Homo sapiens: one gene and its partner. The protein of the gene in region 2 interacts with the protein of the main gene of each other region in a pairwise test. Each region holds a gene or a part of one and is shown on either strand. Other genes may lie near its edges.

The links. The genes of interacting proteins can lie anywhere in the genome.
Region 1: the proteins of RAB35 (region 2) and MICALL1 interact in a two-hybrid assay, tested with the Homo sapiens proteins (one study listed by IntAct).

What each region holds. Positions count from the first base shown.
Region 1 is NC_000022.11:37,916,287-37,923,310, reverse strand, and holds part of MICALL1 (MICAL-like protein 1), read right to left. Parts: intron 5,605-7,024; coding exon 5,516-5,604; intron 4,276-5,515; coding exon 4,133-4,275; intron 1,340-4,132; coding exon 885-1,339; intron 1-884. UniProt on the Homo sapiens protein: Lipid-binding protein with higher affinity for phosphatidic acid, a lipid enriched in recycling endosome membranes. On endosome membranes, acts as a downstream effector of Rab proteins recruiting cytosolic proteins to regulate membrane tubulation.
Region 2 is NC_000012.12:120,099,750-120,106,773, reverse strand, and holds part of RAB35 (ras-related protein Rab-35), read left to right. Parts: intron 1-2,824; coding exon 2,825-2,948; intron 2,949-7,024. UniProt on the Homo sapiens protein: The small GTPases Rab are key regulators of intracellular membrane trafficking, from the formation of transport vesicles to their fusion with membranes.

The DNA.
Region 1 (7,024 bases), on a different chromosome or scaffold from region 2:
AGATTGCAGTGAGCCGAGATTGTGCCATTGCACTCCACCTGGATGACAGAGTGAGATTCCGTCTCAAAAAAAATAAAAAGAGCCCGGCACAGTGGCTCATGCCTGTACTCCCAGCACTTTGAGAGGCTGAGGTGGGCAGATCACCTGAGGTCGGGAGTTTGAGACCAGCCTGGCCAACATGGTGAAACCTCATCTTTACTAAAAATACAAAAATTAGCCAGGCTGTGGTAGCCTGTAATCCCAGCTACTCAAGAGGCTGAGGCAGGATAACTGATTGAAGCCGGGAGGCAAAGGTTGCAGTGAGCCGAGATCGCACCACTGCACTCCAACCTGGGTGACAGAGTGGGATTCCATCTCAAAAATAATAATAATAGGCTGGGCACAGTGGCTCACGCCTGTAATCCCAGCACTTTGGGAGGCCGAGGCAGGCAGATCACCTGAGGTAGGGAGTTCAACACCAGCTTGACCAACATGGAGAAACCCCGTCTCTACTAAAAAAAAAAAAAAAAAAAAACAAAAAAAAACAAAACAAAATTAGCTGGGCATGGTGGCGCATGCCTGTAATCCCAGCTACTCAGGAGGCTGAGGCAGGAGAATCGCTTGAACCCGGGAGGTGGAAGTTGCAGTGAGCCGAGGTCAAGCCACTGCACTCCAGCCTGGGGGACAAGAGCAAAACTCCATCTCAAAAAAAAAAAAAAAAAAAAAAAAATATATATATATATATATATATATAATAACCTCAAAAACACAGGCAGGCCCCAACACAGCACAGCACACAATGGCACAGATGGAGAGGGGCCCACCAACACTCCCAGACACACAGACTTTTCAATAGACAGTGCACTGCCACCCGGTGCCCCCTGCCCTGACTGCACCCTGCTCACCGTTCACCAGGCTGCTGCTGCCAGCCTGCTCCACCAGGTTCTCCTGCTGCAGACTGGAGCGGGGCCGGGGCGTGGGGGGTGCTGGGGTGGTGCTCTCAGAGGCCTTCCTGGGGGCAGGGGTGGGGCGGCCCGCAGGGGGGCTGGCCAGCTCCTGTAGTTTGCCAGGAACCCGGGGCTTGGTAGGGATCTGCGGCCGGGCCTCAGGGCTGGCCTTGGGTCCATCGGCCTCAGCCCCTGCAGGAGCACTGGAGCTGGGGCCGCCTCCTGGAACATCCTTGGCATCTTCTGCGAGTTGCTGCTGGTGCTGCTGCTTTGGCTGTGAGAAGGGCCCAGGCCTGGTCCCCGACCGTGTCCCCGGGCCCAGCCTGGCACAGTGTTCTGCACACACAAAGGTGCCCTCCTCAGGCCCATTCTCATAAGCCCCAGGGAGCAGGGTGCTGGAGCACCGCCGACACCTGGCAGGGGACAGGACAGGGGTTCACTTAGCCAGGCAGCTGGGCCCAGGCACTGGCTACCCCTCCAGCCGCACCCAGGGCTGTCTCCTCCCTTCCCTCCTCCCAACTGCCAGCCAAGCTCGACTCCATACCCTAGACTTCCCAGAGGATAAAGAAAACAGTAACTGTCAGAAGCATAGTGGAACAATAAAATCACCAAATCACACGAACTCAGCAACAGAAATTGTGAAAAATGCCTTCAGTTTATGCTGCAAGAGGAAGAAGCAAAGGTCCCCCTGAGAGGTGGCATCCAGTGAGTGGCTGCATCCAGTAGTGGCTCAGGAAAATAAAGCAGTGGTTTTTACCCAATCAGGTGTTGTTTTGTGTTTTGTTTTCATTTTGTTTTGTTTTGTTTTTTTGAGATGGAGTCTCACTCTTGTTGTCCAGGCTGGAGTGCAATGGTGCGACCTTGGCTCACTGCAACCTCCGCCTCTCGGGTTCAAGAGATTCTCCTGCCTCAGCCTTCCGAGTGGCTGGGATTACAGGCATCTGCCACCACACCTGGCTAATTTTTTTTTGGCATTTTTAGTAGAGACGGAGTTTCACCAAGTCGGCCAGGCTGGTCTCAAACTCCCAACCTCAAGTGATCCACCTGCATAGGCCTCCCAAAGTGCTGGGATTACAGGTGTGAGCCACTACTTCCGGCTGTGTTTTGTTAATGAAATAGAATAAGATACAATGTATAAGACAGTATCATACAAGAAAGGCCAAATAGTGCTTTGTGAAACTCTTACTCCAGCTGTGCCTCTACTTACACAGTTTTATTTCAGGTAAATATTTACATCTAGTCACAGTGTCAAGTGTATTTTTTACTAGGAGTTGCTATAAAAAGTTTCTTTTTATTTTTGAGGCAGGGTCTCACTGTCACCCAGGTTGGAGTGCAGTAGTGCAGTCATAACTCACTGCAGCCTCAAACTCCTGGGCTCAAGTGATCCTCCTGCCTCAGCCTCCCAAATGCCTAAGACTACAGGTGCGTGCCACTACACTAGGCTAATTTTTTTTTTTTTGAGACGGAGTCTCAGTCTGTCGCCCAGGCCGGAGTGCAGTGGCGTGATCTCGGCTCACTGCAAGCTCTGCCTCCCAGGTTCACACCATTCTCCTGCCTCAGCCTCCCGAGTAGCTGGGACTACAGGCGCCTGCCACCACCATGCCCGGCTAATTTTTTTTGTATTTTTAGTAGAGACGGGGTTTCACCGTGTTAGCCAGGATGGCTTCGATCTCCTGACCTCGTGATCCACCCGCCTCGGCCTCCCAAAGTGCTGGGATTACAGACATGAGCCATTGCGCCTGGCCTAATTTTTTTTTTTTTTAATTTTTTTGTAGAGATGAAGTCTCATTATGTTGCCCAGGCTAGTCTTAAACTCTGGGCCTCAAGCGATCCTCCAGCCTCAGCCTCCGAAAGTGCTGGGATTATAGGCATGAGCCACCACCACACCCAGCTCCGGCCTGTAAAAAGTTTCTAAAACACTGCCCTGGTAGCCAGATGTGACTGTGTTGGTAGAGTCTGTTTCCTCCTCGAGATTTTTCCCCATGACACCCCAATTCTGCGGTCAGGTTCCAGGGTTCCAGCACCAGCTGCCCCCCACTCAGGGGCACACTCAACCAGATCAAGTGCGTGCTGCCACTCCCGGCTTCCTTGACTGTTCAATTTCCTCTTTTGGTTTCATTTTTGAAACATATAAAATGTTTCCATGAATTTTCTAAGTTTTTTTACTTTCCTTGCTGCTTATACCACTCTCTTAAAATCTGGCTTCCCTTGGAAGCCACATACTTAAAGCAAGTTGTTACTGTAATTTTTTAAAACTTCAAGCAGAACATGGTAGCACATGCCTGTAGTCCCGATTACTTGGGAGGGTAAGACAGGAAGATCACTTGAGCCAAGGAGGTTGAGACCAGCCTGGGCAACATAGTAGACCCATCTTAAAAGAAAAAAAGATTTTTTTTTTGAGACAGAGTCTCGTTCTGTCGCCCAGGCTGGAGTGCAAAGGTGCGATCTCAGCTCACTGCAACCTCCACCTCCTGGCTTCAAGTGATTCCTGCCTCAGCTTCCCGAGTAGCCGGGATTACAGGTGCCCACGACCACACCCAGCTAATTTTTGTATTTTTAGTAGAGATGAGGTTTCACCACGTTGATCAGGCTGGTCTCAAACTCCTGACCTCAGGGTGATCCACCTGTCTCGGCCTCCCAAAGTGCTGGGATTACAGGCGTGAGCCACCATACCCGGCCAAAAAAAAATTTTTTAAGCTAAAATATTTCATTTTATTTTTTCAATGGCCTTTTTTTTTTTTTTTTTTTTGAGACAGAGTCTCGCTCTGTCACCCAGGCTGGAATGCAGTAGCACGATCTCGGCTTCCTGTAACCTCTGCCTCCCGGGTTTGAGCGATTCTCCTGCCTCAGCCTCTCGAGTAGCTGGGATTAGAGGTGTGCACCACCATGCCCGGCTAATTTTCAATGGCTTTTAAAGTACACGTGGCTTTTAAAGTGCTCCTTCATCCTCATCCAGTAGTTATCCTCAAAAAGCGTAGGCGCTGGAAGGAAAACCCCTGTGCTCTAACCCTGTTTCTGTCTCGAATCATGTGGCTGAGCAACTGCTTTTCCCCTCACTAAGCCTTGGTTTGCTCATCAGTAAAATGGGGATAAGCCAGGGGCTCTGGTGTGAAGGGCCTGGCAAGGTGCCTGGCGCACTGTGTGTGCTGAACCCACGGTAGCCCCCTCCCTGGTTTCGGGGGTAACACGCGGCCCTGGCCACTCACCGGAAGCAGTGGCGATGGTACAGCCTGCCGTCAGCCAGGTAGCGCTGCACCAAGTGCACATGCTGCTGGCAGGCTGCGCACGTGCTGCTGGGGGTCTGGCCGGTGCCCTGCTCTGACAGGCTGCCTGAGGAGAGCTCCTCGCCCTGCAGAGAACGAGGTGGGGGAGGTTGGGAGCAGGACATGGTCACCAGCCATCCTGTTCACATCACTGCCCTCTCCCTCCCTCCAACGGCCACCGTCACTCAAGTGTGCACCAGGCTTCGTGGTGGAAATGGACTTCATCAGGGCCCCAGGAGGGGCAGAGGGCAGGAGGCTGCCACTGTCTCCCAGGTGAGGAAGCCAAAGCCCAGAACGGAGGAAAGCCTTGTTCAAGGTCACTGAGCCAGTGCGGAAACACGAAAATCCTGACTTCCGGTTTCTGAGGCTTCCCTCCCCAAAGGAAGGCAGCTCCTGGCTGTGCAGCCCCTTCCCCTTGGCGGCTCCTGCCCCCTCCTCCTCCCCTTTGCGGGGGAGCCCCCCTGACAGGTTCCTGTCCTCCCAGGCCGACCTCAGCTGCCTTTTCTGTTCTCTCCTAGAACTGCCACGGATTTAAATCCCAGTTTCTCTACATCCAAGCACAGTGAACCTGAGCAAGCTGCTCAAGTGTGGGCTTGGGTCCCACCTGCAGAATGAAACTGTATAACCCCTGCCAGCCTCAGCCCCATGTACCCTCATGGAGCACCCACCCTGGGGCTAGCTCCCTCCAGCAAAGAGCAGATGGGAGCAGGAGGGGAAGGCCCTTTACACACTGTAAGGTGCCGTCCAGATGTGAAGGGCTGGTGTCACTTCCTCTAAGCCCTTCAAACAGGTGACTGGCAGTTGGCCCCCACTTCCTTACTAAGTAACCTTGGACAAATGACTAAACCTCACTGAGCCTCAGTTTCCTCATCTGTATACCAGGGCCCATAATGCTGACCTCCCTGGGTTGTTGAGAGGATTAAAGGAAATCAAGCCGGGAAGTTTACAGCTGTCTCCACAGGAATCAAGGGGAATCTTTGCTTTACTACGTGTGTAACTCCTGACAGTCCCATGATGGTGAAGTCAGCATTGTGGACTGCCCTCTCTCCCCTTGCCAGAGCTGGCATCTCCTGACCCCACCTGAGTCCTGGAGAAGGAGGTAGGGCTCCCTGCCCATAGAACGGGACTGGCCTCCTGACCCATGCCTCACTGCCCCAGTCAGGGACACCTGTTCCCAAAGCCAATAGGGCAGGGACAGAGAACAAGCACCCTCTGAACACTGTCAGGGCTAACTTCCTCACATGACCCAGTCACTGCAATGATAGTCGTCCACATAACTCGCCCCCTCCACCCCTGGCCCTCCCACCTCTCCAGGTATCTGCCTACCTGAGCCACATCTTCTGGTTCCACTGGAGTGGGTGCTACAGACGGCGGGGAACAGGGTGCAAGGCCCTTTCTGGGTGGCGAGACACCAGCTGCCAAGAGATGAGAAAGGGGTCCTGAAGCAGGTGGAGATCCTGGAGTCCCAGGAGGTCCCAACCTGGCTGAAGATTTGAGACCTGTAGCCATCACCTAAAGGCAGACCACCTAATGCAGTGGGACAGGAGCTGGCTCCCGCTTCACACGGGCCCGGGGACGCTTCCAGTTTTAAGCCAAGTGCTGAGGGCAAGCCATGAACCTCACTGAACCTCCATCAAATGGGGAGAGTGACTCCTACTGCACAGAGCCAATCCGAACAATGGCGCAACAGTACGATCACAGAACACAGCACCCGCGTGTGGCTACACCAGCAGCTTCCCTGCCACCAGGGTAGAGGAGGTGAAGGAAAGGAAAAGAAAGGAACCATATGGTGCTGCCCTGACAGCTCAGGAAAGGCGCTGCCTCCTTGGGGTTGACAAGGAGCTGTCCTGCCTATCCCCAAGTGGGTATTGGGGGCCAGAACCCGGCCTGCACACCCCCTCACCAGAACAAACCCACCCACCCTGGGTTCCTCTAAGACTCAGCTCCTCAGGCCGGGCACAGTGGCTCACGTCTATAATCCCAGCACTTTGGGAGGCTGAGGTGGGTGGATCATTTGAGGTCAGGAGTTCAAGACCAGCCTGGCCAACATAGTGAAACACCATCTCTACTAAAAATACAAAAATCAGCTGGACATGGTGGTGCGCGCCTATAATCACAGCCACTCAGCCACTCGGAAGGCTAAGGCAGGAGAATCGCTCGAACCTGGGAGGTGGAGGTTACAGTGAGTTGAGATCGCGCCACTGCACTCCAGCCTGGGCAACCGAGCAAGACTCTGTCTCAAAAAAAGAAATAAATTCAATAACACTATGGTTGGTGCCAGGAGTGGCTCCAGCTGACTGGGGAGAGGCCCTTAGAAGCCACATGAAGAAGCTGGACTTCATCCTGACATTACTCCCCAACCCCTTTCTGATTTCCCACAGCCACTCGGCTTCCTTCACTCCTGCCCTGGCTCCCTGAGCAGGCTGCAGCTCCTCCAGGGTGGGGGTCTGTCTGTTGTGCCCGGGGTCACTGGCACCCACTGAGCGTGGTGGCACAGCTGAACACTCAGCACAGCACCACGACATCTCAGCCAGGGGCAGGCTCCAAACTTACCCAGTCTGGTAAAAAGTCAAGGCTAGTCAAAGTCACTCTTGAAATGCCTCCACTCGCCCAGAAAGTACAGTACAGGACCATCTGGGGGAGTCGAACAGCCAGCTTTGCCTCCAGAGTTGGAACACATCACTGTTTCCTTTGCTTAAGCAGCAGATGGGATAAAAATGGTTTGCATTTAGGGGCCAAGTTGTATGAAAGGCACAAACTGTACCTTTTCTTTTTTATTACAAAAGGCAGATTTATTAGAGAAGGTATGAAAATACATTGCGAGGCTGAAAATAC
Region 2 (7,024 bases):
CTACTAAAAATAAAAAAATGAGTTGGGTGTGGCGGCATGTGCCTGTAATCCCGGCTACTCAGGAGGCTGAGGCAGGAGAATCGCTTGAACCAGGGAGTTGGTTGCAGTGAGCCGAGATCTTGTCACAGCACTCCAGCCTGGCGACAGAGTGAGACTCCGTCTCAAAAAAAAAAAAAAAAAAAGAAAAAGAAAGTGATTCCATAGCTGATGTCTCTTGGTGGAGAAGTGGGTTTTGCCCCCTTTGTTTCCTTGACACTGTCCCTGCAATCTCACTAGTGGTGTGGTGTTAGAAAGAGATGGCTGCTCTGTGTGACCTTAGCCAGTTCATTTGTAAAATAGAAGCCTCAGTTCATGTGTAAAGTAGAAATCATAATGGTCCTTTCCCCATGGGGTTGTTATAGGATGACCTGAGATAGTGCAGGTTGCAGTGCCTGGGACTAAGTAATTGCTCAATAAATACCAGCTATTTGTTGCGACTGGCTGTTAACCTTCTGTTTAAGAATGATAGCTGATTAACAGCCTCTAATTATGCTAAAAAATGTTCCTCTTCCTCCTTAATGGCCTCCTCCCTCCCCATCCCAATCTGTGTTCAGTGCTTGGAGGGCTTGTTGTTGCAATCTCTTCCCACCTTTCCATTTCTACGACCAGCATCTCAGTTTACTGTTGGTTCTACCTGGAAGCATTACGGCAACCCCTACCCACCCTGAACCGCTCATGTGTGTGTCTGGTAGGGTCTTTTCTCTGTTTAAAAACCTCAGTGGCCCCTCTCACCTGCACAGAGTTTACAGTAAGATTTCTTCACTTGGACACTGTTGACCCTTTGGGCCCTGTGATTTTTTTTTTTTTTTTTTTTTTTTGAGACGGAGTCTCGCTCTGTCGCCCAGGCTGGAGTGCGGTGGTGTGATCTTGGCTCACTGCAAGCTCCGCCTCCCGGGTTCACGCCATTCTCCTGCCTCCCAAGTAGCTGGGACCACAGGTGCCCGCCACCACGCCTGGCTAATTTTTTGTATTTTTAGTAGAGACGGGGTTTTACCATGTGAGCCAGGATGGTCTTGATCTCCTGACCTCGTGATCTGCCCACCTCGGCCTCCCAGAGTGCTGGGATTACAGGCGTGAGCCAGCGCGCCGGGTCTGGGCCCTGTGATTTTTGTTGTGGGGCTATCCTGCGTGTCGAAGGATGTTGAGCAGCATCCCTGGCCTCCACCCACTAAATGCCAGCAACACTTCCCTCCCCCTGCTGTGACAACCAAAAATGCCTCCAGACATTGCTGAGTGTCCTTTGGAGGGACAGTCATCCCGGCTGAGAACCACTGCGCTCGTAGTCTGTTTTCAGTTCGCCTTTCTGGCTTCCTCCTACCCCCTGGTCATTCTTTTGTTCTTTGGCTTGCTTGGTTCGTTAGCCACCAGCTGTTTCTGGGGAGCCTAACTGTGCTAGGCAGTGGGCTGCACTCCTTGGCGTTCCCCTGGCTGGAAGACCCCGGGTGCTGGCCGCTTTTCTGAATGTGTTCTGGTTGCGTATCATCCTCAGCTATTTGCTTTTGAGTGGGATGTCGTTCCCCTACCTAATCTCAACCTTTGAAGTCTTACCTGTTCTTTCAAGCTAGGCCCAGATGTGACGTCCTCCCTGAAGCCTGCCTTGTTCCCCACCCCACCTTGGAATTTGACCTTTCCTACGCCCTTGCCACATTTCACATAATTGTGTGTGTGTGTGGTGTCTCCTGCACTGTTATAGCATAAGCCCCAAATGGAGTGAGAAGCTGTGCTCTTCCTAGTGTCAGGCTTTGGAAAGCTGGACTGGGCAATTACACCGGCTAGAAATTCTCCTCAAATCCATCTTTCAGGCCGGGCACGGTGGCTTGTGCCTGTAATCCCAGCACTTTGGGAGGCTGAGGCAGGCGGATCACTTGAGGTCAGGAGTTTGAGACCAGCCTGGGCAACATGGTGAAACCCCGTCTGTACTAAAAACACAAAAATTAGCCGGGCGTGGTGGCGCATGCCTGTAGTCCCAGCTACTCAGGAGGCTGAGGTGGGAGGATTATCAGACCCTGGGGGAAGGTCAAGGGTGCAATCCCACTTCACTCCAGCCTGGGCGACAGAATGAGACGCTGTCCCCCCCCCACCAAAAAAAATCCATTTTTCCCACAGATGCTGCAAGAGAGCTATTTAAAATGCAGCAGCTCATGCCACTGATTAAAACCCTTTGGTGCCTCCCCAGCACACACGAGAGAAAGTCCACGTTCTTGGAAGTGGCACACAGGTCCAAGATCTGGCCTCGCCACTTTCTGCCTGCCTTGGGCGGCAGGCTTGACCTCATGTGACCGCCCCCACTCACGGCTGTTTTTGCTACTGTCTCCCCTGCCTGGAGCAGTGGCTTTCAGACTGCAGCTCATGACCTATTTGTGTGTTTGGAAGTGAATTTTGAGGGCCCTAAATTTTTTTTGACTTGAATAGAAAAGAAAAACCCAGAGTGCCCGTAGGTCTACCATTCTCAGACATAGCTGGTGTGTCCCCATCTAGCCACTCTAAAGGAGCCTGTCCCACTCCCGCCAGTCCCATCCCGTGTTATTTCCTATGTGTCACTTTTCACTCTCGGAAATTGTCCTCTTTGTTTGTTTGCTTGCATCCTGTCTCCCTCCTTCACTTGTGTGTGGAGGGGCCTTGTGAACAAGGATGTTCAGGGCTGTGTCCCTGGGACCTAGAATGTACCAGGCACATGTAATGAGTCGGGAGGGTGGGGGAGCCTGGGGGTGTGTTGTGTGCAGCGTGGGGCTCAGGGCCTGGGAAGATACCGCGCTGGGCCTCGTTAACTGCCCTGTGTGTGCAGGCAGCTACATCACCACGATCGGAGTGGATTTCAAGATCCGGACCGTGGAGATCAACGGGGAGAAGGTGAAGCTGCAGATCTGGGACACAGCGGGGCAGGAGCGCTTCCGCACCATCACCTCCACGTGAGTCCACACGCCCACTCCCACCCAACCCGCGCCACTGACCTGTGGACACAGTTGAGCGACCGGTGCCTGGTCATGGTGGAAATGTCACTGGTGGGTCCCTGAGGCTGTCGGGAAGTGAGCCTGTTGTTGGCTGTAGTAGGTGGCGTTTGGCTGCACCCTTCCTGGTCCTGAAGATGTGAGGGGGGTGCTGTGGGGGAGTCGCTGAGCACCCTGGCTGGAGTCTGGCCGGACAGTGGCCATGTTCTATCTCCTTGGAGAGTCAGCCGACCCTCCGGCCCACTGTGCCGTCACCTTACAGAGAGAGCAGAATAGCATTTGCCTCGCTAGGGGGTTGCGAAGTGCCTTGCCCACCCAGGACTTAGTCGCTGACAATTCCTCTTGGTAGGTGTCAGTTATGGCAGCTGGAGTTGGCCTGTGCAGGCTCCCGTCACCTGCACTGATGCCTTGGAAGTGACGCTGTCTAGAGACGAACACGGTGCATGTCAGCAGGCCCTTCCCTACCCTTAAAGCTGTTCCTGGGAAATCCGGCCGCCCACCGGTTGCCCACCTTTGTGGCTGAGCTGCAGGCCGGGGGGAAGCTGGGCTCCTGCGCAGATGGGCAGTGTCCTTCGGAGCGGCTCCTGGTTATTGGGTTGTTAGTGGAGCAGGTTTTAGGAAAGAGCAGGGTCTGAAGGGGCCGATTTGGAGCTGTTGGGCTGTGTGTCCTTAGGCAAGTTGCCGAAGCTCTCTGCGCTCGTTTCCTGGAGGGCCTGCCTCTGGGATTGGCTTCCATGTGGAGGGTGCCAGGTGCTCTGCTGCAGGCGTCAACGTGCGTGCCGGGGTGTGGTGTCTGGCAGCTCTGTGTGCTTGGTGCTGCTGTCATCCCATTTGACAGAGGGCGCCCTGGAGGGGTCCCTCCCAGCGGCCAAGCCTGTGCTCCACACAGTGGCCTGTGCAGAGTGAGGGGCGGCTGTCTGGCTCCACGGGCACCTCCTTGGCTCTCTCGAGCAGCTCCTCTGGAAGTGACCTCAGGAAGGCGAATGAGGAAGTCCCAGCCAGCGGCCCCCTTCCTTCCCACAGCATGAAAGCCCGGCACTCCCCAGGCTGGCTGCCCCTGCCCCCGGGCCCCTCGGCATCTCCCGAGGGTGGGAAGTGTGGGGTGCAGCGCCCCCATGGATGGCTGGGAGTATGGGGGAGAGCAGGGCTGCTGGAGAGGGACAGGTGTGCTGGGCGAGCAGCTCCTGGGGCTGGAGCCAAGGCGGAGGGCTTGTCACTGGGTTCACCCTATGCTGAGCACATTTGTGCTGTGGCCCGTGATGCCCGGAATCCCTGGGAGCTCCCAGTCCCGGGGTCGCCCTGGTGTGGTGCTGTGTGGTGACCGTTGATGAGCCCTGTGAGCGAGGGCTCTGTGGCCTGCATGTCTTGGCAGCTGCCAGTGAGAATCTGCGGAGGACACTGGGGCAGGGCTGGCATCAGTGCTTTGGGCAGCCTGGGGCTGCAGGCCCAGGCGAGGCAAGCCCTCATGCCGTTGGCTGGTCTGGGCGCTGACCTCATGAATCCTTGCTCTGGGTTGGTCCTGTCGCTAGGATTTCAGCTGCTTTATTTTGGTTAATCCCGGTAGAGAGACCTGTGACTATCTCCATTTTATGGACAGGAAAACAGGCCCAGGGAGGATGAAGCCTCCTAACTCAGTGGGGCAGAGGTTGGGGGCACTCAGGGTTGGCCCTGAGTCTGCCGAGGCCCTGCATCGACTGGGCAGGTGGCGCCCCTGCCTTCCTGCCCCGTCCTGTGCCTTAAAACCAGGCGGAGGTTCAGGGTGGCAGAGGTTCAGAGGCCCGTGGCCATGAGGAATGAACTCCTGGGCAGGGCAGTGGGGCCTGGGGGGTCCGAGGCTCTTTCAGCAGGAGGAGCCACAGCCCCTCCCTGCCATCATGCAGTCAGCTGCTTTCTGGGCTGGGCAGAGCGGGAAGAAGGTGAACTGGTTCCTCCATTCCGTGGGGAGGCGGGGAGGAGTCACTCAGCTTCCTGGGAGCAACATGGGTTTTTCCCCAGGGGCTTGGGAAGGGGCGGCCTGTGGGCAGCGGCTGGGCCCCTGCTGCCGTCCCACGTGTCTGGGGAAGCAGACAGGTGGCTCCATCTTAGAGTCCCGCTCTGGCCCTCATGAGGCAGGAGGCCCAGCAGGGCGCCCTGAGGGGCCACTGGAAGTCTCGACGCCCTTTGATGGTCACTGGCAAAGAAGGAAGGAGTTTTGGGGAGGTGAGGAGTTTTCAGGAATAGGGCAGTCAGGATGCAGTAGCGTGACTTTTTTCCGATGCAGGGCGTTCAGAGAGAAACTGAAACTGCATCCTGTTAGCCTGGCGAGAAAAAGCCTTGTGGTCACCCCTTCTCGGGTTCTTGCTCTCAGAAGCTGAGGTTTGCCGGCCCTGAGAGGTGCGGGTGGGATGGAGGTGAGGGGAGAAGTGACAAGGAAGGCAAGGCCCTGGCGTTGGGCCTGGGAGTCAGCCCTGGGCGCCAGGACTTCCAGCTGGCCGCTGCACTCAGCCTCACGTCCTTGCTGGTCACATGGCCATCCTGAGGTCTGCTGGATCAGGTGGCTGCAGACATTAATAAGGTAATGGATACCAAGCCCCCAGCTCTGTGCCTGGCCTAGAGCAGAGTCCCTGTGAGTGAAGGTGATTCCTGGTGGCCATGGGAAACGTCGGTGCTCCGGTTCCTCCTAGCCAGAGCTCTGAGCCCCTGACTTCATCCCCAGACAAATTCTCTGCTCTCAGATAAAGCCCCTTTCCTGGGCCCCGGATGAGGCAGAGGCGCCCAGGGAGCCGCGGGGGCTGTGCGCCGGGGCCATGGCTGCAGGCGTTTCTTGGCATCTCTGATCATCTTCAGCAAAGGAGAGTCTGCAGAGCCATCCGCTCCTTGGGCTTCCTCTGCTGGCAGGGGACAGTCGCCTGTTCCTGTGGCTCCGGCGCGCCCTCGCTCTGGAAGGCGTCTGACACACCATGCCATGTGCTGACCCGGCGCTCTCAGCAGCAGCTGCCAAGGCCAGAGCTAGTTCTTGGGCCCAGTGCCAAGAGAGCTTGATCGTCACAGCTACCCCGAAGCCAAGGAGCGACGCTGCCCTGGAAGCAAAGCTGTGGGCAGAATGAAGCCCTGGGAAGAGATCCCAGCGGTCGTGTTGAGGATGGAGCAAGGATGGGGCAGGGGCGGTGGCAGGGGCAGGTTGGGCTTTGTCCCAGGGCTGGGCAGGAGCTCTGGCTCTGCAGCATCAGGGAAGATGCTCAGGGCTGCCCCTAAGCTGCCTGTTGGTTTCCTTCCACCACCTCTGTCTGGGACCACAGATTGTCCTTGAAGGCACATTGATGATGCTGAAGAACGCATACTGACTGTTTACTGCTCCCCCGCCTTGGGGTAATGCTTAGCTCCTTTCTTCCTCATGACCACCCCAGTTAAGGACTAGCCACCTGTGTGCTATAACTGTTGAAGCTGCAAGGTGTGGCAGGGTGAATGCAGGCACCTTCCCAAGGGCCAGCCTTTCAGAGATGGAGCCAGGGTTGGTCTTTGTCCTTAGATCGGGCCTCAGATGTGAAGCATTGGCCAGAGAGCTGATGGGCAGGTGGACAGGAATGGAGCTGCAGCCACAAGTCAGCCTGGCTGCCCCATTCTTGCTCAGCCTGCGCTGACTTGGGCTGTTCCTGAACTGGGGCTTGGGCTGTCCCCATGAACCTCATGGGGGTGGAGGTAATTAGGGCTGGGGCAGGTGGCAGCCAGAAAGCCGGGAGGAAGCGGCCTGTCCACTCATGGTTTGTCTGTGTGCTGTCCTGAGGAGCCCTGGGGTGGAGGTCCCTGCGGCTTTGGGGAGAGGGGACAGAGGGACAGCTCTGGCTGATTGCACAGTGTGGGGCGGGGCTGCCGCCTGGCCTCCGGCTCTTCGACAGCTCTCGGGGAAGCGGAGGCTGTGGTCCCCCTCCTCCTCCGGGGATTGATGTCGTCCTGTGCCACTGGGATGAATGGGGACATGGGGTCTGGAGAGGAGAGTTGGGCCTCCCCTTCCTTCTGGCCTTCCTGGCTGGCCCTGGGCTCTGCATGTTTGGGGTGAT